Regions from separate parts of the Homo sapiens genome. Here region 1 is linked to region 2. Evidence: fine-mapped expression QTL. A gene starts in region 2. The other region holds a variant in brackets. All regions are shown on one strand. Distances are from middle to middle.

Region 1 (16,001 bases), 48 kb after region 2:
GGCAGGAGGATCACTTGAGCCCAGGAGTTTGAGGCTGCAGTGAGCTATGATCATGTCACTGCATTCCAGCCTGGGTGACAAAGGAGACTATGCCTCTAAAAAAGAAAAATAAATAAATGAAAGCTCCAATGGATAAAGTAGATGGCATGTAATAAGACAGATGGAAATTCTGAGAAAGAGTCAAAAAAATGCTAGAGATTAAAAACACTATGAAGATTGCCATTCATGAGCTTACGGGTTGACTAAACATAGCTGAAGAAAGATACTCTGAGCTTGAGGATGTCCAGTAGAAACTGAAAAGCAAAGAGAAAAAAGACCCAAAAAAGGGGGAGCAAAATATTCAAGAACTGTGGGGCAATTATAAAAAATACAGAAAGAGAGAAAGGAACAAAAACTATATATGTATATGTATATATATGTGTGTGTGTATATATATATATATTTTATTTTTGAGACAGAATCTCGCTGTGTCACCCAGGCTGGAGTGCAGTGGCGCAATCTCAGCTCACTGCAAGCTCTGCCTCCTGAATTCAAGTGATTCTCCTGCCTCAGCCACCCTAGTAGCTGGGATTACAGGCTCCTGCCACCACACCCAACTAATTTTTGCATTTTTAGTAAAGACGGGGTTTCACCATGTTGGCCAGGCTGGTCTCAAACTCCTGACCTCAGGTGATCCACCCACCTCAGCCTCCCAAAGTGCTGGAATTACAGGCGTGAGCCACTGCGCCTGGCCAAAAACAATATTTGAAGCAATTATGAACTGACAGTTTCTCCCAAATTAATGTTAGATACCAAACTACAGATTCAGGAAACTCGAAGAATACCAGGAAGAATAAATCCTAAGTAAATTACACATAGGTATATCATATTCAAACTACAGAATATCAAAGATAAAGAAAAAATCTTCAATGAAGTCAGAGGGGAAAAATATTCTTAACTATAGAGAAACAAAGATAAGAATTACATCTGACTTATTAGAAACCATGCAAGCAGGAAGAGAATGCAGTATATTTAACATGTTGGTAGAAAAATACCACCAACTTAGAATTCTGTATACTGTGAAATTTCCCTTCAGATTTAAAGAAGAAATAGACTTTCTCAGACAAATAAACGTCAGAGGAATTTGTTGTCAGTACATTTGTCTTGCAGAAATGTTTTTTAAAAGTTATTTTACTTTATTTAGGCCGGGCGCAGTGGCTTACGCCTGTGGTCCCAGCACTTTGGGAGGCTGAGGCGGGCGGATCACAAGGTCAGGAAATCGAGACTATCCTGGCGAACACAGTGAAACCCCGTCTCTACTAAAAATACAAAAAAGATTAGCCGGGCGTGGTCGTGGGTGCCTGTGGTCCCAACTACTCCGGGAGGCTGAGGCGGGAGAATGGCGTGAACCCGGCAGGCAGAGCTTGCAGTGAGCAAGATCGCGCCACTGCACTCCAGCCTGGGCGACAGAGCGAGACTCCGTCTCAAAAAAAAAGTTATTTTACTTTATTTTATTTTTTAAATAGAAGGCCCGGCATGGTGGCTCATGCCTGTAATCCCAGCAATTTGGGAGGCTGAAGTGGGCAGATCACTTGAGCTCAGGAATTCAAAACCAGCCTGGGCAACATGGCAAAACCCCATCTCTACTAAAAATACAAAAAATCAGCCAGGTGTGGTGACGCACACACTGGTAGTCCCAGCTACTTGGGGGGCTGAGATGGGAGGATCACTTGAGCCTGGGAGGTCAAGTCTGCAGTGAGCCCTGATCATGCCTGTGCACTCCAACCTGGGCAACAGACTGAGACTCTGTCTCAAAAAACAAACAAACAAAAAAATTGGAGACAGGGTCTCACTATGTTGGCCAGCCTGGTTTGGAAATCTTGGCCTCAAGTGATCCTCCCACCTCAGCCTCCCAAAGTGCTGGGATTACAGGCATTGGCCACCATGTGTAGCCAAAAGATGTTCTTCAAAGAGAAGAAAATTGTTAAAGATCAGAAAATCAATAAAGGTCAGAAAATGAAATCTACATAAAGAAAGGAGAACATTAATGTGCAGTGGTGGGATCTTGGCTCACTGCAAGGTCTGCCTTCTGGGTTCATGCCATTCCTATGCCTCAGCCTCCAAAGTAGCTTGGACTACAGGTGCCTGTCACCACGCCTGGCTAATTTTTTGTGTTTTTAGTAGAGACAGGGTTTTACCATGTTAGCCAGGGTGGTCTCAATCTCCTGACCTGGTGATCCACCTGCCTCAGCCTCCCAAAGTGCTAGGATTACAGGTGTGAGCCACCGTGCCCAGCCTATTTTTCTTATTCTTAATTGATCTAACAGATAACTGGTTAAAATAATAATAGCAACAATATACTCAATTGTATATGTAGAAATTTTGAACTAAATAAAAATGAAAATATAATTAACAAAATTTGTGGGATGCAGCAATTGCAATAAAAGGGAAATTTATGTCATTGGAAACATATATTAGAAAAAAAAGACAAATCCAAAATCAATAATGTGTACTACCACCTTGGAAAACTAGAAATAGAAGAGTAAATTAAAGACAAATTAAGCAGAAGAAAAGAAATAATAAAAATCAGAAAAAACATGAAACTGAAAATCAATAGAGAAAATTAACAAAAAAACAAAAGCCGGTTATTTGAAAAGATCAATAAAATTTATAAGTCTCCAGTTGCACTAACTGCAAAAAAAAAAAAAAAAAGAGAGAGGACATAATCACTAATATCAGAAATAAAAAAAGTAGACATTACCTGGTTGGCCCTGTCAGTAAAAGTTTTTTTAAAAAAAGAGTGGACATCACTTAAAGACCCCACAGACATTGAAAGGATAGTAACAAAACTATTCTCACGAATTTGATAACCTAGATGAAATGGACCAATTCCTTGAAAGATGCAATCTGCCAAAATTCACACACACAAATTAGACAATCTGTAAAGACCCAGGATTATTTTAAAAATTGAATCAATAATTAATAAACTTCCAAAACAGAAAGTCCCTAGCCCCAGATAGATTCACTGGCAAATTATATCAAACATTGAAAGAAGCAGCTGTACAGTTCTTTGTAATCTCTTTTAGGAGACAGAAATAGAGGGAATACTTCCTAACTCCCTAGCTACTCAAGGACCAGGGAGGACTATTGTGGGCTTCACCTGGGAGCTGGTTAGAAATGCAATATCTGTGCTTGCTTTGAGAGCACATATACTAAAATTGGAACAATTCAGAGAAGATTAGCACGGCGCCCTACACAAAGATAATACACAAATTTGTGAAGTGTTCCCTATTTAATAAAAACATATTTTTTAAAAATGCAGAATCTTGTGCCTCAGCATAAGCCTACACTCAAAACCTGCAAGTTCATCAAGATCCACAAGTCATTCATATGTACATTAAGTGTTAAGAAGCACTGGTCCTCAACCTATCTGCATACTGGAGTCTCCTGGAAGAAATTCTGATTTAATTGGTATGAGTGTGGCAGGGCTTTGGGATTTTTTAAAGCTCCCCAAGCAATTTAAAATTCAGCAATATCTAAAGAGAGGTCTTAGAAGCCAAGATCACAAAATGAATATCGGTGAAGTATCATTTTGCTTACCTCAAAGGGCCTTATCAATGGCACTATTCCATGGGCTGCCATCCAACCTGCTACTAATGGATAAAGTCCCATAATGCCCCATGTCAACTTTCGGCCAAGAAATTTGAGAGTCTAGGCGTTATGTGATGACTCACATCTGTAATCCCATCACCTTGGGAGGTCGAGGCAGGGGGACTGCTTGAGGCCAGGAGCTCAAGACCAACCAGTGCAACATAGGAGGACCCCATCTCTACAATTATTTATATATATATATATATATATATGTATATTTTAATTAGCTGGGCATGGTAGTGTTGTAGGACTTTCTCCTTAAGGTCCTTGTCACACAACCAGGAAAGATTAGGCTTGCAGACACTTTGAAAGGTGAGAAAAATGGAATTTATTGCGTGAAAAGGAGAAAGGGGAAACAGAGACTCTAAGCAAAGTGAGAGTTCTGCTAGCTGGTCTCTCACCTCACAGATTGAATCACAGGTTACCACCCGGGAACAGGAGCGTCCAGGCTCCTCCCCACTGCAAAGGGCTCAAACTTCCCATGGCTCCACCCCGTTCTCCCAGTGTACAGGCTGGTCAGAGGTTCTCCGGGGACCCCTTTATACTTGGCTGTCTCAGTAGTACACACCTGTAATCCTAGCTACTCAGGAGGCTAAAGCAGGAGGATCACTGGAGCCCAGGAGTTGGAGGTTACGGTGAGCCTTGATCACACCACTGCACTCCAGCCAGGTCAACAGAGAGGGACCCTGTCTCTAAAAATAGTAAATAAATAAGAAAATAAATTCGAGAGATTATATTTTTAGAAATATTTGTTTCAGTAGTTTAGTAGCACAGAACTTTCTGTACTTTACCTTTTCTCTTTCCCTTCCACCCAAATTCTTTACACTAATAGGGTAGGTTTCCATTTAAATAGATGTAAATTAATTAATTAAAAATGTTTTATTAGCCTGCTATTATGCCACAAATTATACTTTAATTTAATGAAACTAGTGTTCAGCACAATGCCAGTTTAATGGGGTTCCAACTTAAAACCAATAAAGCATTGAGGGTAATTCAAAACATTGTATTGCAAATTACTAAGAACTGGAGAGGTGAGAAGAGAGTGGGGGATGGAATTGAGGATGAGGCGAAAAGATGAAAGAACTGAGGGAAAGACCAGAGAAAGGAATACTCTCCTGTTCTTTTTGCTTTTGTAAACTGTTAATGACAAGTGGATTCTAGTAGCTGAATTCAATGATCCAGGGCCCCAGCAAACTGACAGTCATGGCTGGTTTCCATAGTTAACAACATGTAGAACTATTTCTTCAAAGAGGTTTAATTAGAATGTTCGAATATTGGAGCTTAAATATAACTGGAGAGCTTTGCCTAAGAAACTTAAACTCAGGCCAGGCGCGGTGGCTCATGCCTTTAATCCCCGCAGTTTGGGTCACCTGAGGCCACGAGTTCGAGACTAGCCTGGCCAACATGGGGAAACCCTGTCCCTACTAAAAATACAAAAATTAGCTGGGCGTGGTGGTGGGCGCCTGTAATCCCAGCTACTTGGGAGGCTGAGGCAGGAGAATCGCTTGAACCCAGGAGGCAGAGGTTGCAGTGAGCTGAGATCGTGCCATTGCACTCCAGCCTGGGTGACAACAGCGAAACTCAGTTTCAAAAAAAAAAAAAAAAAGAAAGAAACTTAAACTCATGTTTAAGACTTTCCTTAAACATGAGAAGGCAAAAGGCAACTACATTTTTCTGATATTATCGGAATAAAATTATTCCAGTGGCACAATATTTTTTTTTTACAGATTACCCTGAAATACTTACTCTCTACTTTTGTACCAGAAAATCTTAAAGCCACAGCTGGACCAAAGGTATGCCAGCTCCAAACTTTAAAAGAAAAGGTAACTCTTTAAATATAATTATTCCTTTTTGATCACTTTGCAAATTTTCTCTTTCCTCTTCCATTTCTCTAGTTTTCTTTTCTTCAAGTAGGAAATGATTTTGTTTGCTTTGCAAAGACCTAACACACCTCAGCTGTAAAGAATTCAAGCCGGCCGGGCTTGGTGGCTCATGCCTGTAATCCCAGCTCTTTGGGAGGCTGAGGCGGGCAGATCACGGGGTCAAAAGATCGAGAATATCCCGGCCAACATGGTGAAACCCCGTCTCTAGTAAAAATACAAAAAATTAGCCGGGCGTGGTGACAGGCGCCTGTAGTCCCAGCTACTCGGGAGGCTGAGGCAGGAGAGTCGCTTGAACCTGGGAGGTACAGGTTGCAGTGAGCCGAGATCGTGCCACTGCACTCCAGCCTGGTGACAGAGCAAGACTCCATCTCAAACAAACAAACAAACAAACAAACAAAAGAATTCAAGCCAGGCAGTTGTCTGCTGCAGAGCATATAATATTGATGATATATGTTTAGGGTCCCATTTGGACATGGAGAATAACTTTGCTATAGATATTCAATATAACCAAGAGCATAGGCATAAAATACTCACTCACAGTTGCCAATAATTCCAAGTGTATGCACAAGTTTTGCACATCTTCAGTATATTTTAGATCCTAGATCAGTTAGCCTTACTTGGTAATGCAAGAAAGCTTCATTTTATTTTATTTGTTCTTTTGCCTTAAAATAAAGGGAAATAGTTGGCAGTGTTTTAAAGGAATAAGAAGACTGGTTGCTTTTGGCAGAAGGGAATTTGTCATTCTCTCCATCAGAGAAGGATTAATTGTATTGTTTTGGAGGCAGTGGGGATTAGGATGGGAATATTTGAATTTCATTATTAGAGTAGGTGTATAAAATATACTTGTATAAAAATATACTTGAAACTAAAGTCCTATGCTGTCAAAAGATTTGCCATTTAAGTGCAAAATATGTTTGCAAATCCCACAAAACAGGAAGACCAGACTGTCTTGAACAACTTGCTCAGTGTCTTGAGAGTACTGCCAATTCTTACTCTTGGCTTTGTTTTCTGAAAGCTGCTTCCTCTTTGGCTAGGAGCTGTTCACCTTTTCCTGAAGTACGTCTACCAACAGGGGCACACTAGGAAATGTCTAATGAATTCCTGTAGTTTTATTTCCTTCAAATTCCACTGGCAGAGAACTTCACAGTGTGGTGAAATCACTAAAGATGTTAGTACTTGGGCTTTTCCCTACAAAATCATTGAAAAGTCTTCCAAACACTCCAGCAGATTGCTCTTCCAAGTCTCAGGACAGTCTTAATCTTAATCTTAAAATGCATAGCATTAAACCTCTAAGATATGTGTTCCAATTATGTTTTGAATTATGTTTTGAAAGTTGTTTTCTCTGAAAAAGTAGGGATCTAAACTTTTCTTTTCACACTACCTTTCTATATACACACAGACTCCAACTAACTTGGCATTAAAAATAAAAACTATAATATAAATGACCCATAGATGTACACTTTATTCTGAAAACTTACCATTCTGTTCCACTTTCATAAAGTTACTCTTATCCTTTGCATGTGGTCACCAGTCCCATCAGTTCTTCCTTTACAATGTTTGAGGAATCTGTCTCTCTCCATAACCTCTAACCTTACTTTATCTTAGCCCTTTATCATTTTATCTTTTATTTATTTATTTATTTATTTATTTTTGAGACGGAGTCTTGCTCTGTCGCCCAGGCTGGAGTGCAGTGGCGCGATCTCAGCTCACTGCAACCTCTGCCTCCCGGGCTCAAGCAATTCTCCTGCATCAACCCCCAGAGTAGCTGGGACCACAGGTGCACGCCACCACACCCGACTAATTTTTGTATTTTTAGTAGAGATGGGGTTTCCCCATGTTGGCCAGGATGGTCTCGATCTCTTGACCTCATGATCCGCCTGCCTCGGCCTCCCAAAGTGCTGGAATTACAGGCGTGAGCCACCACGCCCAGCCACCATTTATCATTTTATATCTGGGCTGTCTTCCAAGCTAGTCTCTGCCGACAATACTTCGTTCTCTAATCCAATCTAAACTGTCCTGTACCCTGTCTCCAGTATAATCTTTATTCTAGAACTATCAAACTCTTTCTTCATATTGTTGCCTGTTGAAAATCTGCTAGTTCTTCTCCCAACTGAAAGAATCAAGTCCTGGCCAGGCGC[G/A]GTGTCCTGTAATCCCAGCATTTTGGGAGGCCAAGGTGGGAGCTTTGCTTGAAGCCAGGAGTTCAACACCAGCCTGGGCAATACAGAAAGACCCTGTCTTAAAAAAATAAATGAATCAAGTCCAAACTCCTGACCCTTAGAAGCACGGCCACCACATCCTGATACTACACAGCCTTTTTCCACTCTTTTTCTTCTTTTTTTAAAAATTTTTTTGTAGTTGTTTCATTGAAAAAAATAAAATAAAAATGATAGTTGGATGCCATGAAGTAGGTGGCAATGCCTTAACTGTGTGCTTGTTGTCAGGCCCGAGGGCCTCTTCCATCCTTGTCAAGAGAAGTGTTAACCTTCTGTCCTTTCATACAACACTCCCCACTCTTCTTTTCTAAGACAGCTAGGCATCTCATAATCATGCCTCTTATTTTCTCACTTCCATCCTTCGTTCACACACTTGCTACTCATGCCGTTCCCCGTTGTCATATTTTTAAATCCAATGTATTAATTTTAATACCTAGATCCAGGCCCACCTTCTCCATGAAGTGTTTCTTCACTACCACTCTAGCCCACAGTGGTCTCGTCTTCCTTTGAGCTCTTAACATTTATTCTTGAAACAACAAACCCAATAGTCCCATAGATTGGTGCATTTACAAAACTTTAGCTAGACACAGAGCGCTGATTGGTGCATTTACAATCCTTTAGCTAACAGAAAAGTTCCCCAAGTCCCCACCCGACCCAGAAGCCCAGCCAGCTTCATCTCTCACCACCACAGCCCAGGTAATTTGCGTATTTTCAGTAGAGACGGGGTTTCACCATGTTGGCCAGGCTGCTTTCCAACTCCTGACCTCAGGTGATCCACCCGCCTTGGCCTCCCGAAGTGCTAGGATTACAAGCGTGAACCAATGTGCCCAGTCTCAAAGCAGTGCATTTTTATGCATAACAAGTATTTACTGCTTTACTTGAGACCCCTGCCACACTCTTCATAATCCAATGGAGAAATCTCTAGAACATTAAAGAATATTAAAAGACTAGAAAGACGAGCTTTTATTAACTTTTTCTGGGCTTTTAACACTACAGAGTTACCAGCTATTACATGAGTTCAATTGGACTTCCTACTTACTGATTTTTTTTAAATAACATTTTAACATTATCATCAGAGGCAGACTCTGTAAAGTGGTATAATATGGTTTCCTGTGACGTGGCATAAACAGGTCTACATCCTAGTCTCCTTTTTAACTGAAATCTTAGTGATATGAAACTGTGGACAACTGGAAAAGAAGTCTTTCTGTTCGAGGACAAGAAATCTGCTATTGGGTGCTGAGATATATTAAATTTGAGCTTTTTTGATCTCCTCGAGGGATATTTTTCTTTTTCTTCTCTTCAGACAGAGTCTTGCTGTGTCACCCAGAGCTGGAGTGCAGTGGCATAATCTCAGCTCACTGCAGCCTCGAACTCCTGCATTCAAGCAGTCCTCCTGCCTCAGCCTCTCTAGTAGGTGAGACTATAGGCATGCCCCAGTATACCTGGCTAATTTTTTTATTTTTAGTAGAGACGAGGTCCCACTATGTTATGCAGGCTAGTCTCGAACTCCTGAGCTCAAACAGTCCTCCCACCTGAGCCTCCCAAAGTGCTGGAATTACAGGCATAGCCACCGCACCCAACCTCATTTTGTTTTTTTCAATATCCCTGTCAGGGCACAATGAAGGATATTTTTGTTGGCTGAAAAGTCTATTCAAATGTTCATGTGAATTTTAGAAATCAATATAAGATAACTAAAGTTGTAAATTTAAGACTCTGCTTTTTCTTAGGGCTGTAAATTCAGTTTACAAATACTGTTGCTCTATCAGTAGGTGTAGCAAATTTCAGTATTCACTTCCAAGGAATCTCTCAATAATGGTTTGGTCCAATTTACAATCTTAGTTCATTAAACATTTCCAAATACTTTAAACTGTACTTGGAAGTTTAAAACATCCAGTTCTTTAGAGTGTCATTGGGATTGCCCTAGACCACCTCCATGTTCAGAGATTCACCGAAACAATTTACATAATTCAGTATATATAATCATTCTACTCATAGCTAAGATTTATTACTATTACAACAATGTTGCAAGGATACATAGCTGGATGATAAGGGTAAGCTATAGGGAGAGTCGGAGAAATCCATGGGCAAGCTTCCTCAAGCTCTCGCCTTCCCATGAAGGGCCACACAGAGCACACACTTCCCCTAGCAATGAAAATGCAACATTTGTGCAATACTTTGGCCCAGGGAACTCTACTAGAGACTTAGGGCCCAAGGTTTTTAGGAGGGCTGGTCGGGTAGATACACTCTGAAACCAAAATTACAGAGTCTCAGAAGGAAAGAAAGCAAGTGTGTGACCCACCCTTATCAGTTAACTGATAACTGGGGACACTGTGAAGCAACTTCCAGATGCTCCCTAAGAATCAAGCTCAAAAGCAGGGCTTTCTAGGGATAGCAGCCTCAAACAGATCTGCTCTGTTAACTTTTTTCTGCATACCAAGGTACTTCCATTTTTTAATTTAAAAAACTGAACTTTCCCAAGTGCTCAATCAACCCAGACAAAGCAAATAAATTGAATCCATAAATATGGCCAACCTAACTTATTTCAAGTGTCCCACTATTTTCTCCAAACTTGTGGTATTGCAACTTTAAATCAAAAGCCTAAATTACTTATTTAATTATAACATTTGAAATTGGACTGACAAAATTGGTCTTAACCAATTAACCTGGGAGGCGGAGGTTACAGTGAGGCGAGATCACACCACTGCACTCCAGCCTGGGTGACAGAGCGAGACTGTCTCAAAAAAAACAAAACAAAACAGTTCATACCTTGGCCAGGTGCAGTGGTTTAAGCCTATAATCTCAGCACCTTGGGAGGCCGAGGCAGTCGGATCACCTGAGGTCAGTTCAATACCAGCCTGGCCAACATGGCGAAACCCTGTCTCTACTAAAAATACAAAAATTAGCTAAGTGTGGTCGCACACACCTACAATTCTAGCTACTCAGGAGACTGAGGCACAAGAATCACTTGAACCAGGGAGGCAGAGCTTGCAGTGAGCAGAGATGGCACCACTGCACTCCAGCCTGGGCGACAGAGCGAGACTCCATCTCAAAAAAAAAAAAAAAAACAAAAAAGCAAACAAGAAACACCAAAAAAAACAAAATAAATAAAAACAAAATTCAGACCGGATGCGGTGGCTCACACTTATAATCCCAGCACTTTCAGAGGCTGAGGCAGATGGATCACCTGAGGTCAGGAGTTTGAGACCAGCCTGGCCAACATGGTGAAATCCCATCTCTACTAAAATACAAAAATTATCCAGGCGTGGTGGTGAGCGCCTGTAATCCCAGCTACTCAGGAGGCAGAAGAATCGCTTGAACCTGGGAGCCGGAGGTTGCAGTGAGCTGATGTCATGCCACTGCACTCCAGCCTGGCTGGGTGAGAGCAAGACTCTGTCTCAAAAAAAAACAAAAAACAAAACAAAAACAAAAAACAAAGTTCATACCTCTTTCTATAAGTAAAAAATAAAAATTTTAAGTGAAAGAAAATTTTTCAGTTTGATTAGCAGGGGTTGTGTTGGTGTTGGCAATGTTATATAAAATAATAAGTAATGATAAGTTTTAGATTCAAGCTACGTGGTAGTAGCAATATACTGTGCTTTTCCTTTGCCAAAGATAACCTAAAGATAAAACTAATAAACAGAATCTTCTCTGCTATTCACCATTTTCCCCAGTTGTCAGTTATTTTTGACTGAATACGTTTTTTGCTTTTGTACCCTAGTGGTAGATCACTCTTTGAATGCATCTTAAAGATGTGTCCTATAAAACAAAACAAAACAAAACACCCTAAGCATCCTGTATAAGACTATTACCTTGTGGGTATTCCTACAGGTGTAGAATGCTCATGCACATATAAGTTGGTAATAAAATGTTTTGATTGAATTAGATATAATTAGGTTAAAGATGTCAGTAATGTAAGTAATCCTACACACACACACACACACACACACACACACACACACATATACATATATACGTTTAAGACAGTGCCTCTCTATGTTGCCTAAGCTGGACTGGAACTCCTGAGCTCAAGCAACCTTCCCACCTCAGCCTCCAGTGGCTGGGACTGGAGGCAGGCACCATTGTGCCTGGCTAGTAATGCAATATTTTTGTGTTCGTTGAAGGAGAGTAAAATAAATTGTAAAATCTATTTGTAGTTTATTTTGAAATGCTCTCCCCAGCAGCCTTACCTTTGCCTTATTTTCTTGAGGTCCTATTTACATTCATCCCATTCAGTGAGGATGAAGGATGTTGTTCTAAAACAAAAAGAATGGTAGAAATAAGCCCCATATAGTTAAAAGTGTGCTGGTAGCTATAAATACATACTTTTTCTTTTCTTTTTTTTTTTCTAAGAGATGGGATCTTGCTCTGTTGCCCAGGCTGGAGTGCAGTGGTACAATCATAGCTCACTGCAGCCTCAAACTCCTAGGTTCAAGCAATTCTCCCACCTCAGCCCCTGAGTACCTGGGAATATAGGCACTTGCCACCATTAACTGGCTAATATTTTATAGAGACAGTCTTGCTTTGTTGCCCACACTGGTCTCGAACTCCTAGCTTCTTCCCAAAATGCTGGAATGACAGGCATAAGCCACCACACCTGACCCATACATACATTTTTTTCAAGGAATAACAGAAGCCAGAGTTGATTTTATTTGCATTTGTTAAGAAGAGGCGCAGATGCCATGTTCTGCCCCTGTATTCCCAGCTACTCAGGAGAATGAGGTGAGAGGATTTCTTGGGGCCAGGAACTCGAGGCTGTAGTGCCCTGTGACTGCACCAGGGATTAACCACTGCACTCTAGCTTGGGCAACACAGAGAGGCTTGGTCCCTAAAAAAATTAAAAAATAAAAAAAATATATATATATATGTAAAAGAAGAAGAGAGAGTAGTTTGGCTAATTAAGGAGAGGATGTGCTAAACAGGGGACTTAACAAAAGCCACTTTCATTGTGTATTTTAAAAATTATTTTATTTTAGATTCAGGGTTGCACGTGCTTGTTTGTTACATAAGCAGATTGCATACTGGTGGGGACTGAGCTTCTAGTGTACCCAATGTCCAAATAGTGAACATTGTACCTGATAGGTAATTGTTCAACCCCTGCCCCACCCCCCCCCACTTTTGGAGACCCCAGTGTCTGTTATTTCCATCATCATGTTTTCGTTTTAATTTTCTTTTTGAGATGGAGTCTCACTCTGTTGTCCAGGCTGGAGTGCAATGGCGCGATCTCCGCTCACTGCAACCTCCGCCTCCCAGGTTCAAGTGATTCTTCTGCCTCAGACACCTGAGTAGCTGGGACTACCGGAGTACACCACCACACCTGGGTAATTTTTTTGTATTTTAAGTAGAGACGGGGTTTCACTGTGTTAGCCAGGATGGGCTCGATCTCCTGACCACGTGATCCGCTTACCTTTGCCTTCTGAAGTGCTGGGATTACAGGCGTGAGCCACTGTGCCCGGCCGAGAACTCTTTACTTTCAAATGACCAAGATATTTTGGGGAATACAGCAATTCTCTTAACTTGAAGATACAGTCAAACCGGTACTGCACTAAAGGGAAAAACGGGATAAGCAATAAATAGAACTAGAGATGTGGGCCAGAGGGGAAAGTCTTTCTCAAGCCTCTCTTCCAGATAAAATCAAGTTTGGCCATTTTTGTCTTACCTGATTGCAGTCAAAAGCATTTCGAGTGATTTATGGGAATTAGAGCTTTTGGTGCACAGCTAGTTCATTCTTAAATTGCCCATGCTTACATAGTGTAGGAGAAGGTGTGAGTCTATGTCCCAATTTACACATACCGCCCCCAAATAATTATTAGTAGTGGCCTCTTCCTCTCTCAAAAGTATGATTGCCCTAGCTTTAGGTGAAAACCAAAAGTAATCATTTGCTGGACTCTGGCGCCCTCTTGTGATTAAAATTTCACTTTCTGATATTGCTTATTCTGAGATGAGCGACTACCAAAAAATATGAACATCCCAAAGTGGATCATCTAATAACTTTCCCCAGAAGATCTCAGCTTTGAATTTCATGTCATTACACTTTAACACTGACTACCCCTGCATGGTTGCTGCCATCTTCAGATTTCAGAAGCATCTCCCGCCTGTATCAGTAATTGTAGCCCCTGGTACTGTCACTCTCTGTGACACTACTTCTGTCTTAATTCTTGGTGAATTCAGTATCTCCGAAAACGATCTCCCCAGCACTCTGGCCTCTGACTACCTTGAACTTCTCTCCTTCAGTGATCTTGTTCTCCACCCTGCGTTACCTATGTACTTGCAGGTCATGCCATAGAACTTGTAAGCATAGTCTATCTTTCCACCTAAACCCCTCTAATAACCCAACTCCGGCAAACCTTTGACCTTGCTCCACCAGGGCCTAAAACCCATTAATTACACCAGTATTTCACTGTGCCTCACCCCTCACTGCTTTCTTTAGTCACCATACCTGCCGAAATTCCATGATCATTATAATTACATCCTTGCAAATGCCCTCAGCTCCTCTGCTCCCCTTTTGCTTTGTCACTCGCTTGGCAAAACCACAAACCCTACTTAAATTCCTGTCTCCCCTGCTCTGTGCCTGTACCCCTGCAGTTGAACGTGGGTGGAGAAAAACACATAAGAATAATAAATTATTTGATTTTGTGTTTGAATTTTTATTTTTTTTGAGACAGGGTTTTGCCCTGTTACCCAGGCTGGAGAGTGCAGTGGCGAGATCTTAGCCCACTTCAGCCTTTGAACTCTGGGGCCCAAATGATCTTCCCACCTCAGCCTCCTGAGTAGCTGGGACTACCAATGAATGCCACCGCACCCAGCTAATTTTTAAAAATTCTTTGTAGGGACGGGGTCTCACTGTATTGCCCAGGCTGGTCTCAAACTCCTGCGCTCAAGCAATCTTCCCACTTTAGCCTTTCAAACTGTTGGGATTACTGGCTTGAGCCACAAAGACCTGTAATTATCTGATTTTAAATTCTTGATCAAGAATCTCAATGCCGGGACCCTCAGTAATGCCTGACAACTCATACTGTACTTCCCTAGCCCATTCACTCTTCTGTTTCCTATTTCAACACCGAAACATTTTCATCTTTCCCCTCCCATAGTCATTCTCAGATGATAACCTTATGTCCTACTTGACTGAGAAAACTGAAGTAAGTAAAAGAGAACTTCAGATTCTGTTCACCGTATCTGCCCACCCACCTGCATCTGCTGCCTTCTCTCCTATTACCCTACCCTAGAGGAACTGCCCATGTTACTAAGGCCTAAGGCAATGTCTCTACTTTGCATGAAGTCTCATCCCCTTTTTCCTAACTCAATAACAGCACTTTTCCCCTTTCTCTTCTATATCATTGTATATATATGTATATATATGTGTGTGAATATATATATATATTCCTCTCCACTGATTTGTTTCCCCACAGTATAAACATGCTATATTTCTTTTTGTTTGTTTTTGAGACAGAGTCTTGCTCTGTCTCCAGGCTAGAGTGCAGTGGTGCGATCTTGGCTCACTTCAACCTCCGCCTCCCGGATTCAAGCGATTCCCCTGCCTCAGCCTCCGGAGTAGCTGGGACTATAGGCACCTGCCACCGTGCCCAGCTAATTTTTTGTATTTTAGTAGAGATGGGGTTTCACCATGTTGGCAAGGATGGTCTTGATCTCCTGACCTTGTGATCTGTGCCCACTTCAGCCTCCCAAAGTGCTGGGATTACAGCCATGAGCCACCACGCCCGGCCTTTTTTTTTTTTTTTTTTTTTTTGAGACAGAGTCTCATTCTGTCGCCCAGGTTAGAGTGCAGTGGTGCAATCATAGCTTACTGAAGCCTTGAACTCCTGGGCTCAAGTGGTCCTCCTACCTCAGCCTCCTAAGTAAGTGGGACTACAGGCGCATACAACCATGCCTGGCTAATTTCTGTATTTTTTGTAGAGACAAGGTCTTGCTATGTTGCCCAGGCTGGTCTCAAACTCGGGCTCCAGCAGTGTACCCGCCTCAGCTTCCCAAAGTGCTGGGATTACCACCACTAGCCCACTGTTATCTATTTCCCCCATCCTCAAAAATATTCCTCTTGATTCCACATCTTCCAACTACTGCTCTATCGTTTTGTTCTCTTTTACAACAAAACTCTTCAAAAGATACTCACTTCTCCAATCCCTCCCCCATTCTCTCTCAAATCCACTCCAATCAGAACGATGAGACACATGACAAATTGTTTTAAGCCTTTAAGTTTTAGAGTGGTTTGTTAGGTAGGGATAGATAACTGGAACAATATGCCAGAGAGAGCAGTGCAGGT
Region 2 (16,001 bases):
TCTGCAAAATCGCCTGCCCCAAACAATTCCATTTCCTGACCTCCTCTTACACTGCCCAAACTGGGAAAACAAGGTCAAAAATAAATGACAGTGGTTCAGCTTCAGGCCCACAGGAAGTGAATAACTCATTTACATTTAAGAGGGGACTGACTGAGAAGCCCCTATGAATTTAAATAAAAGGAGTAGTGACTGGGGCTAGAAGACATAGGGAGGACAGCGGCAGAAGCTCTGGGAAAGTCATCACCCTTTCTCTTCTCCCTTTGCAAGGTTGACTCCACCAAATTGGCACTGTGGGAAGATTAGCAGCAGTGAGGTGGGTCATTAGAACATTTTGGGATCCTAAGTCCCCAGGGGGAAACAAAATCAAGTTGAGTGTGAGTTAGATTTACCCAAAACCACACAGCATTGTGCCTACAACCCAGTCCTTGTTCTCCGTGAGTCTAGTACATGTCAACTACATGAAGATCAATATCCCTGCTCCCTTCCAGTTTATAATTCAATCATCGGAATTGCAGTAAAAATTATGAACAGAGGCTGGGTGCAGTGGCTCATGCCTGTAATCCCAGCACTTTGGGAGGCCGAGGCAGGTGGATCACGAGGTCAGGAGATCAAGACCATCCTGGCTAACACGGTGAAACCCCATCTCTACTAAAAATACAAAAAAGTAGCTGGGCGTGGTGGAGGGGCGCCGGTAGTCCCAGCTGCTGGGGAGGCTGAGGCAGGAGAATGGCGTGAACCCGGGAGGTGGAGCTTGCAGTGAGCCGAGATGGCGCCACTGCACTCCAGCCTGGGCGACAGAGTGAGACTCCATCTCAAAAAAAAAAAAAAAGAATTATTAACAGAAAATTAAATGTGAGCAGCGGCATTACTTCTCAAAATTCTGAGACCTACAATAAAAAACATCATGATCCAGTATACAAAGATATAAAAGAAGGAGCATGTAATGTGTGTGTACTCCAAAATCATAGAAGGGCTCATTAATTATTGCAAGGGATCCTCTCTCTAATCCACGGGTACAGTTACCATCTCAGACCAAATAATGTCTCATCATAAACACAGTACTTCTTCATTGCTAGTATGACTAACATAAATATGGGTCTCAAATCCTTTTCTCACTGTGAATTCAATCAACAGATACCAAAATTATAATATTAGGATGTAGTTTAAGCTACTCAGCTAATAAAATGATCCTGGTTTCTTACCAGAGCCTAATAGATAGAAGCTCACATATGCATTATTTGTTTTGGAAGCACTGGCAGGGTTTCATTTGAGAAAAAAATGGGAGCTTTAAAAAATTACTAAATACTACCAATTTTACTTCTTTCCCATAAGAGACTGAATCCAAGTTGGCAAATACAGTCAGGTCCTCTATAATGTTTAAACTTTAAGGCAATATGAATTTTCACTCGCGTCCGTGTGAAGAGACCACCAAACAGGCTTCGTGTGAGCAATAAAGCTTTTTAATCACCTGGATGCAGGCGGGCTGAGTCCGAAAAGAAAGTCAGCAAAGGGAGATAGGGATGGGGCCATTTCATAAGATTTGGGTAGGTAAAGGGTAAAGGGGGTTTGTTCTCTGGTGGGCAGGGGTGGGGCGTCACAGGGTGCTCAGCGGGGGAGCTTTTGAGCCAGAATGAGCCAGGAGAAGGAATTTCACAAGGTAATGTCATCAGTTAAGGCAGGAACAGGCCATTTTCAGTTCTTTTGTGGTGGAATGTCATCAGTTAAGGCAGGAACCAACCATCTGGATGTATATGTGCAGGTCACAGGGGATATGATGGCTTAGCTTGGGCTCAGAGGCCTGACATTCCTGTCTTCTTATATTAATAAGAAAAATAAAACAAAATAGTGGTAAAGTGTTGGGGTGGTGAAAATTTTTGGGGGGTGGTATGGAGAGAGAATGGGTGATGTTTCTCAGGGCTGCTTCAAGTGGGATTAGGGGCGGCGTGGGAACCTAAAGTGGGAGAGATTAAGCTGAAGGAAGATTTTGTGGTAAGGGGTGATATTGTGGGGTTGTTAGAAGAAACAATTGTCCTATATAAGTATTGGTGATGGCCTGGATACAATTTTGTATGAATTGAAAAAAGAACGGAATAAGACAAGGAGAAAAACAGGTATTAAAGGACTAAGAATTGGGAGGACCCAGGACATCCAATTAGAGAGTGCCTAAGGAGGTTCAGCATAGCCCTGCCAGCAAAGATGATTTATTTACTTTAAGAGTTGAGAGTGGCGGTTTGGGGATAGCACCAGGAGATATCAGCTGTGGTGGCTTGGAGAAACAGTGTAAACCGGCAGTGTAAACAAGAGCGGGCATGTATGAGTAGTTGAGAATGGTGAATAGGAGTATGACTAGACAGAAGATAGTAGGGATGACAAGTTTTTGGGGGCGCAGTCCAAGTTGGTCTGGTGTCTGGAATGAGACTGGGGCCTAATAAAAAGGAGCATCTATACAGGAGCTCAAATGGGCTGTATTTTGTCGCATTCCGAAGACAGGCCCGAATTCTGAGAAGGGCAAGTGGTAAAAGTATTATCCAGTCCTTTTTAAGTTGGTGGCTGAGCTTGGTGAGGTGTGTTTTTAAAAGACCAGTAGTCCGTTCTACCTTTCCTGAAGATTGAGGATGGTAAGGGATATAAATGTTTCACTGAATACCAAGAGCCCGAAAAACTGCTTGGCTGATTTGACTAATAAAGGCCGGTCCTCTATTGAACCGTATAGAGGTGGGAAGGCCAAACCAAGGAATTATGTCTGACAGAAGGGAAGATATGACCGTCGTGGCCTTCTCAGACCCTGTGGGAAAGGCCTCTACCTATCCAGTGAAAGTGTCTACCCAGACCAAGAAGTATTTTAGTTTCCTGACTCGGGGCATGTGAGTAAAGCTAATTTGCCAGTCCTGGGCAGGAGCAAAACCCCGAGCTTGATGTGTAGGGAAGGGAGGGGGCATGAGAAATTCCTGAGGAGTAGTAGAATAGCAGATGGAACACTGAGAAGTGATTTCCTTGAGGACAGATTTCCACGATGGAAAGGAAATGTTCTAAGAGGCAGGCTAGCGGCTTGTAACCTACATGGAAGAGGTTATGAAATGATGACAGAATAGAATGGGCCTGTGAGGCTGGAAGGAGATATTTTCCTTGGTCTAAGAACCATTTGCTTTGTGTGGGAAGAGATTGATAGGTGGAAGTTTCAGTGGGGGAGTAGGTGGGAGTGACCAATGCGAAGAAGAAAAACTGACCCTGAGGGACAGAAGTTGGAACACTAGTTGCTTTTTTAGCTAACTTATCAGCATAAGCATTGTCCTGAGCGATGGGATATGATACCTTTTTGATGGCCCTTGCAGTGAATGACTCCAGCTTCCTTTGGAAGTAAAGCGGCTTTGAGAAGCGTTTTTATTAAAGAAGCATTAATGATAGAGGACCCTTGTGTAGTGAGGAAACCTCTTGCATAGTGGTGCAGGATATGGAAGGCATATTTAGAGTCAGTATAAATATTGATGTGTAGTCCCTTTGCAAGAGCAAGGGCTTGACTTCAGGCAATGAGTTCGGCTTGCTGAGCGGTAGTGGAGGGGGGCAGAGTGGTAGCCTCAATGATAGATGTGGAAGATACTATAGCATAGCCTGCCTTTGCTGGTGAGTGGCAATTAGGACTGGTGGAACTGCCATCAGTAAACCAAGTGTTCAGGGTGAGGAACAGGAAAGAAGGAAATATGCGGAAATGGGGTGAATGCCCGGTGGATCAGAGAGATAGTCATGGGGGTCAGGTGTGGTATCAGGAATAATGTGGGAGGCCGGATTGAAGTCTGGGCCAGGAACAATGGTAATTGTGGGAGACGCAACAAAGAGTGAGTATAGCTGGAGGAGCCGGGGAGCAGAAAGTATATGTGTCAGGTGTGAGGAAGAAAATAGATTTTGGAAGTTATGAGAGCTGTAGAGAGTGAGTTGAGCATAGTTTGTGATTTTGAGGGCCTCTAAAAGTATTAGGGCGGCGGCAGCCACTGCACGGAGACATGATGGCTAGGCTAAAACAGTAAGGTCAAGTTGTTTGGACAAAAAGGCTACAGGACGCGATCCTGGTCCTTGTGTAAGAATTCTGACTGCACAGCCCTGCACTTCGGCTGTGTGTAATGAAAAGGGTTGGGATGAGTCAGGGAGAGCTAGGGTGGGGGGCAGTCTCTAAAGCTGTCTTGAAGGAATGGAAAGAGGAGTGGGGAAAGGATTTAGGATCTATGGGGTCAGCTAGGTTTCCTTTTGTGAGTTTATATAATGGCTTTGTTAGGATGGCGAAACCAGGTATCCAAAGTCGAAAGTATCCAACCATGCCTAGGAAGGAAAGGAGTTGTTTTGTAGAAGGTGTTGGGGTTTGAGAGATCAGTCAGACACGATTGGCAGGGAGAGCACGTGTGTTTTTATGAAGAATTATGACAAGATAGGTAACAGATGAGGAAGAAATTTGGGTTTGACTGAAGTAATGGGGGCTGTCTGTGAAGCCTTGAGGCAGTACAGAGCCAGGATGAGCCAGAAGGAGGAATTTCACAAGGTAATGTCATCAGTTAAGGCAGGAACCAGCCATCTGGATGTGTAAGTGTAGGTCACAGAGGATATGATGGCTTAGCTTGGGCTCAGAGGCCTGACACCAATCTTTTCAGACTTAGCATTTGCTAAGTCACAAACTTTTTATTATACATAAAAAGTTCAAAAGTAACTCTAGGCCGGGCACGGTGGCTCATGCCTGTATTCCCAGCACTTGGGGAGGCCGAGGCGGGTGGATCACCCAAAGTCAGGAGTTCGAGACCAGCCTGGCCAACATGGCAAAACCTCGTCTTTACTAAAAACATTAAAAATTAGCTGGGCGTGGTGGCACATGCCTGTAATCCCTGCTACTCAGGAGGCTGAGGCAGGAGAATTGCTTGAACCCAGGAAGCGGAGGAGGTTGCAGTCAGCTGAGATCCCACCATTGCACTCTGGCCTGGAGCAAGACTCCATCTCAAAAAAAAAAAGAAGTAACTCTAATAGAACATCCAGTGTCCAGATATTAGCTTCTAATACCATTCTAAAGCAAAATAATCACAGTGCCTTGGAGAAATGGATCATTCCAAGGTTGGGACATGGAAAATACAAAATAAGCCTGAGCATTCTCTGATGCCAGAAATCAAGAAATGCATTAAAAAAGAAAAAGAGTCCGGGCATGATAGCTCACACCTGTAATCCCAGCACTTTGGGAGGCCGAGGCGGGCAGATCACTTGAGGCCAGGAGTTTGAGACCAGCCTGGCCAACATGGAAAACCCCGTCTCTACTAAAAAATACAAAAAGTAGCCAAGTGTGGTGCTACGTACCTGTAATCCCAGCTACTTGGTAGGCTGAGGCACAAGAATCGCTTGAGCCTGGGAGGCGGAGGGTGCAGTGAGCCGAGATCGTGCCACTGCACTCCAGCCTGGGCGACAAAGACTCCGTCTCAAAAAAAAAAAAAAAAAAAAAAGAAGGAAAAAGAAAAAGCAAGTGTATGTCAAAGTGGCACAGGCGCCAACCTGAAAAAGGTCCCAGTGGTGAAAGCCAGAACAATTTGAGCAGCAAATTAAATACTGATAATATTGGATTATAACCCATATAACAAAACAAATATCCATGAGCCCATACTGATACAAATAACTGAATCAATGAACAGGAGAGAAGGGTCAACTCTTCCCTACAGAAGGGAATTTTAATTAAAAAATGTAGAAGGAAGAAAATAGGGGTTTTGTTTAACCATTAGGAAAAAAAACCCGCTAAACAACATGTTCCACAAATGGATGCTTAAATTAATGAATAAAAGTTTAAGGAAAAATGGCAGTGCAGGTTTCTCTCCCAAGATCTCAAATACAAAGGGAATCTGGCAAACAGATTAACATCATAGGTAATAAGAAGTATCGGCTAGGGCACAGTGGCTCACGCCTGTAATCCCAGCACTTTGGGAGGCCAAGGCAGGAGGATCACTAGAGGTCAGGAGTTCGAGACCAGCCTGGCCAACATGAAACCTGTCTCTACTAAAAATACAAAAAATTATCTGGGCATGGTGGCAGGCGCCTATAATCCCAGCTACTCAGGAGGCTGAGGCAGGAGAATCGCTAGAACCTGGGAGGCAAAGGTTGCAATGAGCTGAGATCGTGCCACTGCACTCCAGTCTGGGCAATAAAGCAAGACTCAGTCTCAAAAAAAAGTATTGACATCATGTACCCAATATGACATACTGAGATGGAAACTTTACTTCTGTGACATTTTTCCCCAAAATGCAGAACATTCATCTAATCATGACACTAAACATCAAGCAAACACAAATTGAGGGGCATTCTACAAATTAACTGACCGGGTCTTCTTCACTAGTGTCAAGGTCCATGAAAAAACAATGAAAGGCTGAGGAACTGTCACAGATCAGAGAAAATTAAGGATATTTAGCAGTTAAATGCAAAGTGAGATCATCGATTGGATCCTGGGCAGAAAAAGGACAGTGGAAAGACAAGTGAAATCCAAATAAAGTCTGTAGTTTAGTTCATTGTATTATAGTAGCATGCCCATGTTATTAGTTTTGGCCCTTGTTATGCATGATATTATGGGAACTCTCTGTACTATTTTTTGCAAATTTTCAGTAACTCTCAAATTATTTCACAATTAAAAGTTATTATAAAATAAATAATAAAATAACCAACATCTTTCAATGTTTATAATGGAAGGGTAATGTTAGACTTAACATGCCATCTTTGTCGTTGAAACCTTTCTCATCAAGATCTCATCAAGATCTATACAATCCAGTCAAAGCTGTACTCTGAAAGCACTGTTTTGTAAAGAATATCAATAAAAAACATCTCTTCCTTACTACTCTGGTGTATTTATTTATGACTAGCTGACATTCAAATGATAAGAGAGCTGTAAGATCCTCCTAAAAACCAAGCTTTAGGGGATATCTCTAGGACTGAGAAGGGAGTAAGAGCACTCAACTATCCACAGAAAATTACAAAAGGGAGTTCAATAATTCTTTAGCAAACCATCCAAAGCTTTAAAGGGATTGACCAATAATTTGTCATTTACCTATTCCCAATTGTCATTGACCAATTCCTATATTGGTCAACCCCTTTAAAATATTAACATCAACAAATGTTTCCTCCACCTATAGTAACTTCTGTGCTCAGTGGGTTTTTATCCTTCCAATATCAACTTTAATTTCATACATTTGGAGAAAGGCCAAGAGTTTTTACCAACCCACACTTAACACACTATGGGACCCAGAATCAGTTTGCACCAGGGCATCATTTTCTGAAAAACCACTTTGAACTGTCAGTTTTAAACTGCATACCCACTTTCAAATGAAACTGCGAAAGGCTAAAAAACTCAGTCGTCTCGTTTGAACGGTTACCGATTTTCTAACAAATATATACACAACGCCCACCAACCTTTCCAGACACACACTCTCAGCGAAACTGGTTTTACAATTTACTCACTCAGCTTAATAGAGCTCGGTCTTAACCAAAGGCTCAGGATCTCAGGATGCGTGCGCTCGGAGGCAGCGCTTTAACAATTAAGGATGTAAATGTTGGGATGAGTCACCCGGACCTTCCAAACAAACTCTAAAGCAGCAGTTTCCACTTAACAAGACCACCAAGCATGTGCACGGTGCGTTCCTAAATCCTACCCAGTTCCTCCACAGGCTGCCTCCTTGCCGCGTCTCTCAATCTCAGTGGGAGTGGCGGGCACTGCCTCTTCCCTCCTGCGCGCCCGGAACCTTTTGAGTGGGCACAGCACGCAGCCCGCGCGCGGCACAACCCCTTCCCCCAACCACACCCGGCGCGCCCGAGCGCTCCCCTCGCGCGGCGGCCGGCGTGGGAGGCGCTGCGGCTGGAGGTCACGATGGGAGCCGGCGGGTGGCCGCCTGGGGAGACCCGGACATCCAGGGGACGAGCTCAGGCAGCGCTGACACGAACTTCCTAAGCCGCGCTTCGGGCTGTGGACCGCCAGAGCTGAACGCAGTGGCCCCTCCCCAGCGCCCCGGGTTTCCCCAGGTCGGGGTTCGCGGGCGGGGGTGAGGCGTGGCCCCGACTGCCGGGCCGCGATAAGCGCCCTGCGACCCGGCTGAAAGCGCACACGTGTCCTGCCGCGCTGAGCCGCCAGCAGGACTGGTACCACCGCCCTCCCTCGGGGCTAGGGTCACCCTGCCGTGACACGCAGGGACAAGCCAAACACTCCCGCCTCCGGGATCGAACGGAATGAACCAGAGTGATTAACTACGAGAATCACCAGGCGCTCATTGGGCTGATCAGTACCTCGTCTGACCTAGCTGGGTTTGGTCGCCGTCACTGGCCGGAGCGCCGAAGCACCGGGGACGCTGACGCACAGGTTGCCCAGTCACAAGCGCTGCTCGCACCCAGAGCAAGTTAAATGGGTGGTTTCTGGTGAATGGGATTCTGAGAAAGTGGATGCTTGCGCCCCAGGGCCTAAAAAAATCAGGCACTGAATCTAACCCAAGGAAGGAAAGGGGAGAAACTTACTGAATGAAAATATTACCATAGTTTAAATGTTATTCTTTACACTCCTGTGACTGACATACTTCTGTGCAATATTCCGATGGTGTGGAAAGGCTAGAAAGTGATTGCGCATGTTCAGGAAACGGGCCATCAGGCTTTGTGAGTGTAGCCATCCCAACATCTACCTGCTGCATCTACCCTAGGAAATTAGTACCTGCATGCAGATATTTTCTGGTTTGCATTTACAAACAAAAATCATAGTATCATTTAAGTTGTTTAAATCAACACTAGGAATAACTATTAATGGTTCACCCAATGCAGGAAAGTTTTAGCTAGGAAGCCTAGATAAGAAAATTGACTATACATAATTTTTTAAAAAGAATTTTAAATATACCATACCGCATGCTTTTTAAAAGAATTTTAAGGTATATATTCATGATGCGCCCAAACATTTGGGTAAAATTATTCTTTTGAATTAATTTCTGTCAGTTTCAAGACCCTTAAAGGCCCATATAGAAATACATGTTAGTCATACTTCATTTTAAGACAAAATTAAGGCCAGCACGGTGGCTCATGCCTGTAATCCCAGCACTTTGGGAGGCTGACGCAGGCAGATCACTTGAGGCCAGGAGTTCGAGACCAGCCTGGCCAACATGGTGAAACCCTGCCTCTACTAAAAATACAAAAGTTAGCTGGGTGTGGTGGCGAGGCTGTAATCCCAGCTACTCGCGAGGCTAAGGAACAAGAAGCGCTTGAACACAGGAGGCAGAGGTTGCAAATGACCCGAGATCCCACCACTGCACTCCAGCCTGGGCCACAGAGTGAGACTCTGTCTCAAGAAAAAAAAAAAAATTAAGATAAAGTTTTCAGACCTGGCCGTTAACGACTGTTTGCAAAAACTGAAAAATCTCCGAAAAATAAATTTTATTTTAATTTTCTTTTTAGCTCACCCAGATAAGTGAAAAGAATAAAATTTTATGATACCAGAAAAAATGAAAACATTTCCAGCAAGATCTGAAGGCACTACAGGAGGAGACTGAACAAAAATGGAGAAAACACACACGAAACTGATATGAAGCACATTTTTAAAAATGGATACTTAGTTGAATATAGCATTCTGTAATTATGCAAAGTAAAAACAAATCAAAACCCTATACATAGAGGCCAGGCACGGTGGCTCACGCCTGTAATCCTAGTACTTTGGGAGGCCGAGGCAGGTGGATCACCTGATATCAGGACTTCAAGAGCAGCCTGGCCAACATGGTGAAACCCTTCTCTACTAAAAATACAAAAATTAGCCGGGCATGGTGGCTCATGCCTGTAATCCCAGCTACCCAGGAGGCTGAGGCAGGAGAATTGCTGGAGCCAGGGAGGCAGAGGCTGCAGTGAGCCAAGATCATGTCACTGCACTCTAGCCTGGGTGACAACGTGAGACTCCATCTCAAAAAAAAAAAAAAAAAAAAAAAACCTATACATAGAAAATTGCTGGGCAAGGAGTGACAGCTCACTCCTGTAATCCCAACACTTTGGGAGGCAGAGGCCAAAGAATTGCTTGAGCCCAGGAGTTCAAGACCAGCCTGGGCAACATACTGAGACCCTATCTCTACAAAAAAAAAATATTTTAAATTACACTGGGTGTGGTGGCTTACACCTGTAATCCCAGCACTTTGGGAGGAGGCCAGAGGATTGCTTGAGCCCAAGAATTCGAGACAAGCCTAGGCAACACAGGGAGCCCCTGTCTCTACAAACAATTTTTTTTTTTAATTTTTTTTTTTTTTATTATACTCTAAGTTTTAGGGTACATGTGCACATTGTGCAGGTTAGTTACATATGTATACATGTGCCATGCTGGTGCGCTGCACCCACTAACGTGTCATCTAGCATTAGGTATATCTCCCAATGCTATCCCTCCCCCCTCCCCCGACCCCACCACAGTCCCCAGAGTGTGATATTCCCCTTCCTGTGTCCAAGTGATCTCATTGTTCAATTCCCACCTATGAGTGAGAATATGCGGTGTTTGGTTTTTTGTTCTTGCGATAGTTTACTGAGAATGATGGTTTCCAATTTCATCCATGTCCCTACAAAGGACATGAACTCATCATTTTTTATGGCTGCATAGTATTCCATGGTGTATATGTGCCACATTTTCTTAATCCAGTCTATCATTGTTGGACATTTGGGTTGGTTCCAAGTCTTTGCTATTGTGAATAGTGCCGCAATAAACATACGTGTGCATGTGTCTTTATAGCAGCATGATTTATAGTCCTTTGGGTATATACCCAGTAATGGGATGGCTGGGTCAAATGGTATTTCTAGTTCTAGATCCCTGAGGAATCGCCACACCGACTTCCACAATGGTTGAACTAGTTTACAGTCCCACCAACAGTGTAAAAGTGTTCCTATTTCTCCACATCCTCTCCAGCACCTGTTGTTTCCTGACTTTTTAATGATTGCCATTCTAACTGGTGTGAGATGATATCTCATAGTGGTTTTGATTTGCATTTCTCTGATGGCCAGTGATGATGAGCATTTCTTCATGTGTTTTTTGGCTGCATAAATGTCTTCTTTTGAGAAGTGTCTGTTCATGTCCTTCGCCCACTTTTTGATGGGGTTGTTTGTTTTTTTCTTGTAAATTTGTACAAACAATTTTTTAAAAATTAGCTGGATGTGATGGCACATGCCTGTGGACCTAGCTATTTGGGGGGCTGAGGTGGAAGGATTGCTTGAGCCCCGGGGTTCAAGGCTGCAGCGAGCCATGATCAGAGTGAGACCCCACTCTAAAGAAAAAGAGAAAGAAAGAAAATAGCAGGAAAGTGTTCATTTGTTCTGGGTAGTAACATGGAATGTCTTTTATCTTGTATTTTAGTGTAATTTTCTAAATTTTATGTAACAAATTTAGAAAATTATAAATTTTATAATGAAAAATGGATTTTAAAAGTAAAATAAACTGATAAAATATACATATAAAGACACATGACAATAGAGTCCTCACTTGAAATAGGACTAAAACTAAAAAAAAGTTTCCTTAATTTTAGTCTAATTTTAAAAATATTTTAGATTGTGATGTTTCATATTTATAGGTCGGTTTATTTGCTAACTAAAGTTACATTGGGAGGCAGTGGTAAATCAAATAAAAATTCAAAATAAAGTTTTATTAGTTCCTAACCTCATCCTAATATTTTATCAAATTCTATTTGATAAGTTCAGATTAAAGCCAGCATTTTATAAATGTATTGCACTGTATAGAAATGAGTCATTTTAACTTGTAAGTTAGCATTGTTTTTGGAGCTAGCCATAGAATTTTAGAGAAAAAGGACCTTCCTCATTAGGTCAGATGTTAGATGACTTTCCTCATTTTACAGATAAGTCACCAGTGCAAAGGAGACTGATTTGCACAAGGTTAAAGGTTAAGTGACTCACAGCCTTCCAAGCCATTGCCCTCTGCCCTCCACCACAGGACCTTTCTTTTATTTTACCAGGCAAGAGTCACTGCCCAGTATTTATAAGGCCCCATATTGAGACTCCTGCTGAATGCCTGTGCACCAGTTGCAAAGAGCTGGTAAGGCCCCAGTATGCTACATTTCTTAGTGCTTACTCCAAAGGTGAACTCCAGAATTGTCAATTTTCCCTGGCAAGGTCAGGTTTCAGACAGGATTCACCATGGGCCTGGGGACATTTGGGTTACATATATAACAGATGTATTCAGTCCGAGTATATCTATTTTCATTACCACTCCAAGTTAAGAAAATAACAGTGGAAGAGAGGCTATGTGCACAGTATTCCCCCACAGCCCAGCTCACAGCTATCAGGGCCTTTGACTAATATGGCAAGAGAAAGTTCAGTCTATAATGGTGCAAACAGTTATTGTAAATAAAATAATGGAAACAGTTTAAAACTCTTCCTAAAGATTTCAGTATAAAAGGAAGGTGAGAGAAAGGAATATAGCTAGAGGCTATCTTAGGGTTCAGAGAAAATATTCATTTGGTTTGAATTAGACAGACTAGAACATGTGTGCATGCCAAGAGGACAAGCCATAAAGAAAGAAAGGGTTATTGGTAGTGTCAGGTCCCTTAGGAAGCATAATGAAATGGGATCCAGAGGAATTAGAATTAGAAAAGAAAAGGAAACTTAAGAATCCCTCACGCTCTTCTTTTCCAAATTGGGCCAGGCAGAATGGCTCCTGCAAAGAAAAGCGGCGAGAAGAAGAAGGGCTATTCTGCCATAAACGAGGTAGTGACCCAAGAATAAGCCATCAGCATTCACAAGCGCATTCATAGAGTGGGCTTCAAGAAGTGTGTCCCTGGGGCACTCAGAGAGATCCGGAAATTTGCCATGAAGGAGATGGGAACTCCAGATGTGTGTGTTAATACCAGGTTCAACAAAGCTGTCTGGGCCAAAGGAATAAGGAATGTTCCATACCGCATCTGTGTGCAGTTGTTCAGAAAATGTAATGAGGGTAAAGAATCACCAAACAAGCTCTATATTTTGTTACATTCCTGGTTACCTATATACTTGTTACCATTTTCAAAAATCTGCAGATAGTCAATGTGGATGAGAACTAACCACTGAGCATCAAATACATCAAATAAGTTATAAAATTGCCTTTATATATTTTTTTTAAAAAGGAAATTGATATGGTTTTGCTGTGTCCCTACCCAAATCTCACCTTTTTTTTTTTTGAGACGGAGTCTTGCTCTGTCACCCAGGCTAGAGTGCAATGGTGTGATCTCAGCTCACTGCAACCTCTGCCTTGCGGGTTCAAGCGATTCTACTGCCTCAGCCTCCTGAGTAGCTGGGATTACAAGCACTTGCCACCATGCCTGGTAATTTTTGTATTTTTAGTAGAGACAGGGTTTTGCCATGTTGGCCAGGCTGGTCTCGAACTCTTGACCTCAGGTGATCCACCACCTCGGCCTCCCAAAGTACTAGGATTACAGGCGTGAGCTACGGCTCCCAGCCCATCTTGAATTGTACTTCCCATAATCCCCACGTGTTGCGGGAGGGACCTGGTGGGAGGTAATCGAATCACAGGGGTAATTATTCCTATGCTGCTGTTCTGATAGTGAGTTCTCACGCGCTCTGATGGTTTCATAAGGGGCTTTTCCCCTTTTGCTCGGCACTTCTCCTTCCTGCCGCCATGTGAAGAAGGATGTGTTTGCTTCCCCTTCTGCCATGATTGTAAGTTTCCTGAGGCCTCCCTAGCCAGGCTGAACTGTGAGTCAATTAACCTCTTTCCTTTATAAATTACCCAGTCTCGGGTATGTCTTTATTAGCAGCATGAGAACAGACTAATACAGAAACTTTTTAAAAAATTGTAACAAAAGGGAAGGAAGTTGGATGTATCCTCATGGAGGTAAATGGATTTTTTGTTGTTGTTGTTGTTTGTTTTTGAGACAGAGTCTCACTCTGTTGCCCAGGCTGGAGTGCAGTGGCACAATCTCAGCTCGCCACAACCTCCACCTCCTGGGTTCAAGCAATTCTCCTGCCTCAGCCTCCCAAGTAGCTGGGATTACAGGCATGCATCACCATGCCTGGCTAACTTTTGTATTTTTAGTAGAGATGGGGTCTCACCATGTTGCCTCAGCTGGTCTTGAACTCCTGGCCTCGAAGGGATCTGCCTGCCTTGGACTCCCAAAGTGCTGGGATTATAGGTGTGAGCCACCACATCTGGCCGAGGTAAATGTTTTAATTAGAGAAAATTGAAATAAATATCTGGCCCATAACTATACTTTCTCTCTGAAGTTGATGGATGTGCTGAGGGTATGGGTGTGAATGGCTGATTTGGGATTTGGAAAAATGATGAATATTTGAATAGACTTCTATTCGTTTTCTATTGCTGCCATAACAAATAGCCACAAACTTAGTGGTTTAAGACAACACAAGTATATTACATTTCTATGGGTCAGAAGTCTAAAATGGGTCTAGTGGTCTAAAATCAAAATGTCAGCAGGTCTGTGTTCCTTTCTGGAACCTTTTCAATCTTGTAGAGGCCACCTGCATTCCTTGGCTCTTGGCCTCTTTCTCCATCTTCAAAGCCAGCAGCATAGCAGCCCTGTGACCCTGCTTCTGTCATCACATCTTTGATTTTCTTCTGCCTCCCTCTTCCACCTTTAAGTATTGTTATTACAATAGGCCCACTGGGTAAGCCAGGATAATCTCCCTATTTTAAAGTTATTTGGGCCAGGTACATTCATCTGGGCAGGCTCACGCCTGTAATCTCAGCACTTTGGGAGGCCGAGGCGGGTGGATTACGAGGTCAGGAGTTCAAGACCAGCCTGGCCAACATAGTGAAACACTGTCTCTACTAAAAATACAAAAATTAAGCGGGCATGGTGGCATGCGCCTGTAGTCCCAGCTACTCGGGAGGCTGAGGCAGGAGAATCGCTTGAACCCGGGAGGCGGAGGTTGTGGTGAGCCAAGATTGTGCCACTGCACTCCAGCCTGGGCAACAGAGTGAGACTCCATCTCAAAAAAAAAAAAGAGAGAGAGAAAATCATTAGATTAACAATCTTCATTTCATCTGGAACCTTAATTCTCCTTTGCTAAAGTAACCTATCATTCACATTCTAGGGAATAAGACATGGACACCTTTGAGAGGCCATTTTTCTGCTCACCACAAGGCCCCAAGGAAATGGAAGAGGATGCTAATGGAGGGACCCACTGGCACCCACTGAGTTGGTATGAAGAGTATTTTAAACTGAAACATTTAAGACACAGCAGATACAGAAAGAAGCCTTTCTGGAGCTTCCCTTATTTGACTAAAGCCAGAGCTTTCAGAGAGTGAAGCTGCCATAAATTCCCTCTTGGGGAGCTTCACTGCCAGTAAGGAGACTTTACTGCCAGGAAGGAGACCACTTGCACCTGAATGACGAATTGCATAACCGAACATAATCACAAATTGTCGTACCATCATTTGTTTCCCTAAAAGCCCATTTGTCTTTCCACAAAAGTATATTTGCTTTCCCATAGAACCCTTTCTCTCCTCCTCCCTTTTCCCATATTATTGGCATATAAATTCTCATCCCTAACTGTACAGAGAGCCTCTTCACCTGAGTAAGTGTAAATAAACCTTGTCTATTCTCCTGTTAATCCATCTATTGCCAATTAATTTACAGGCCCCCAAGCACTGGACCTAAGTTGGCAGAGGAAGTTTTTCCTCCCAACACTAATATGAGACATAGAGCTCGCACAGCAACACCAAGGCCCCTACTACTTGGGATGGGACTCTGTAAACAGTGGTTTGAAAGCTGCAAATGGGCATGGCTTTCTCATTCACAAAGATGTGAAGGTAAAGGGTTAGATAAATTCTAGGGTACAGTTTTGTTGGGTGGGTAAGGCAATAGAAAGATGAAGCAAAGGAGTCATGTGAGTGAAGTGATTCATCATCATAGGAAAGCGAAGCCAGGAATAGACAGAGAGAAAGAAAGTACATGGAGGGGTCACATGCAGATGGCAAAAGTTGAAACAGGAGGATCAGGTCACTGAGTGGGATACTGGCATTTAATATTCACATTCCAGGT

Evidence for each region.
Region 1: its variant is fine-mapped to the expression of ABCG2 in testis (GTEx, PIP 0.99).

What each region holds. Positions count from the first base shown.
Region 1 is chr4:88,198,536-88,214,536 of GRCh38, forward strand. It overlaps a transcript of ABCG2 not described here, the pseudogene RNU6-818P and the pseudogene RNU6ATAC31P. Among named protein-coding and RNA genes, the nearest start is that of ABCG2, 48 kb to the left of the region's middle. The variant G/A (reference allele first, on the strand shown) is at 7,652.
Region 2 is chr4:88,150,925-88,166,925 of GRCh38, forward strand. It overlaps ABCG2 (ATP binding cassette subfamily G member 2 (JR blood group)), which reads right to left and starts at 7,715. Exons shown (of 16, transcript NM_004827.3): 1 at 7,462-7,715. It overlaps LOC124900867, which reads right to left and starts at 8,632. Exons shown (of 2, transcript XM_047416558.1): 1 at 8,546-8,632; 2 at 7,462-8,158. The coding sequence starts at 8,632. The coding sequence ends at 7,649. It also overlaps the pseudogene RPL31P24. RefSeq lists silencers at 7,782-8,001, 11,773-12,067.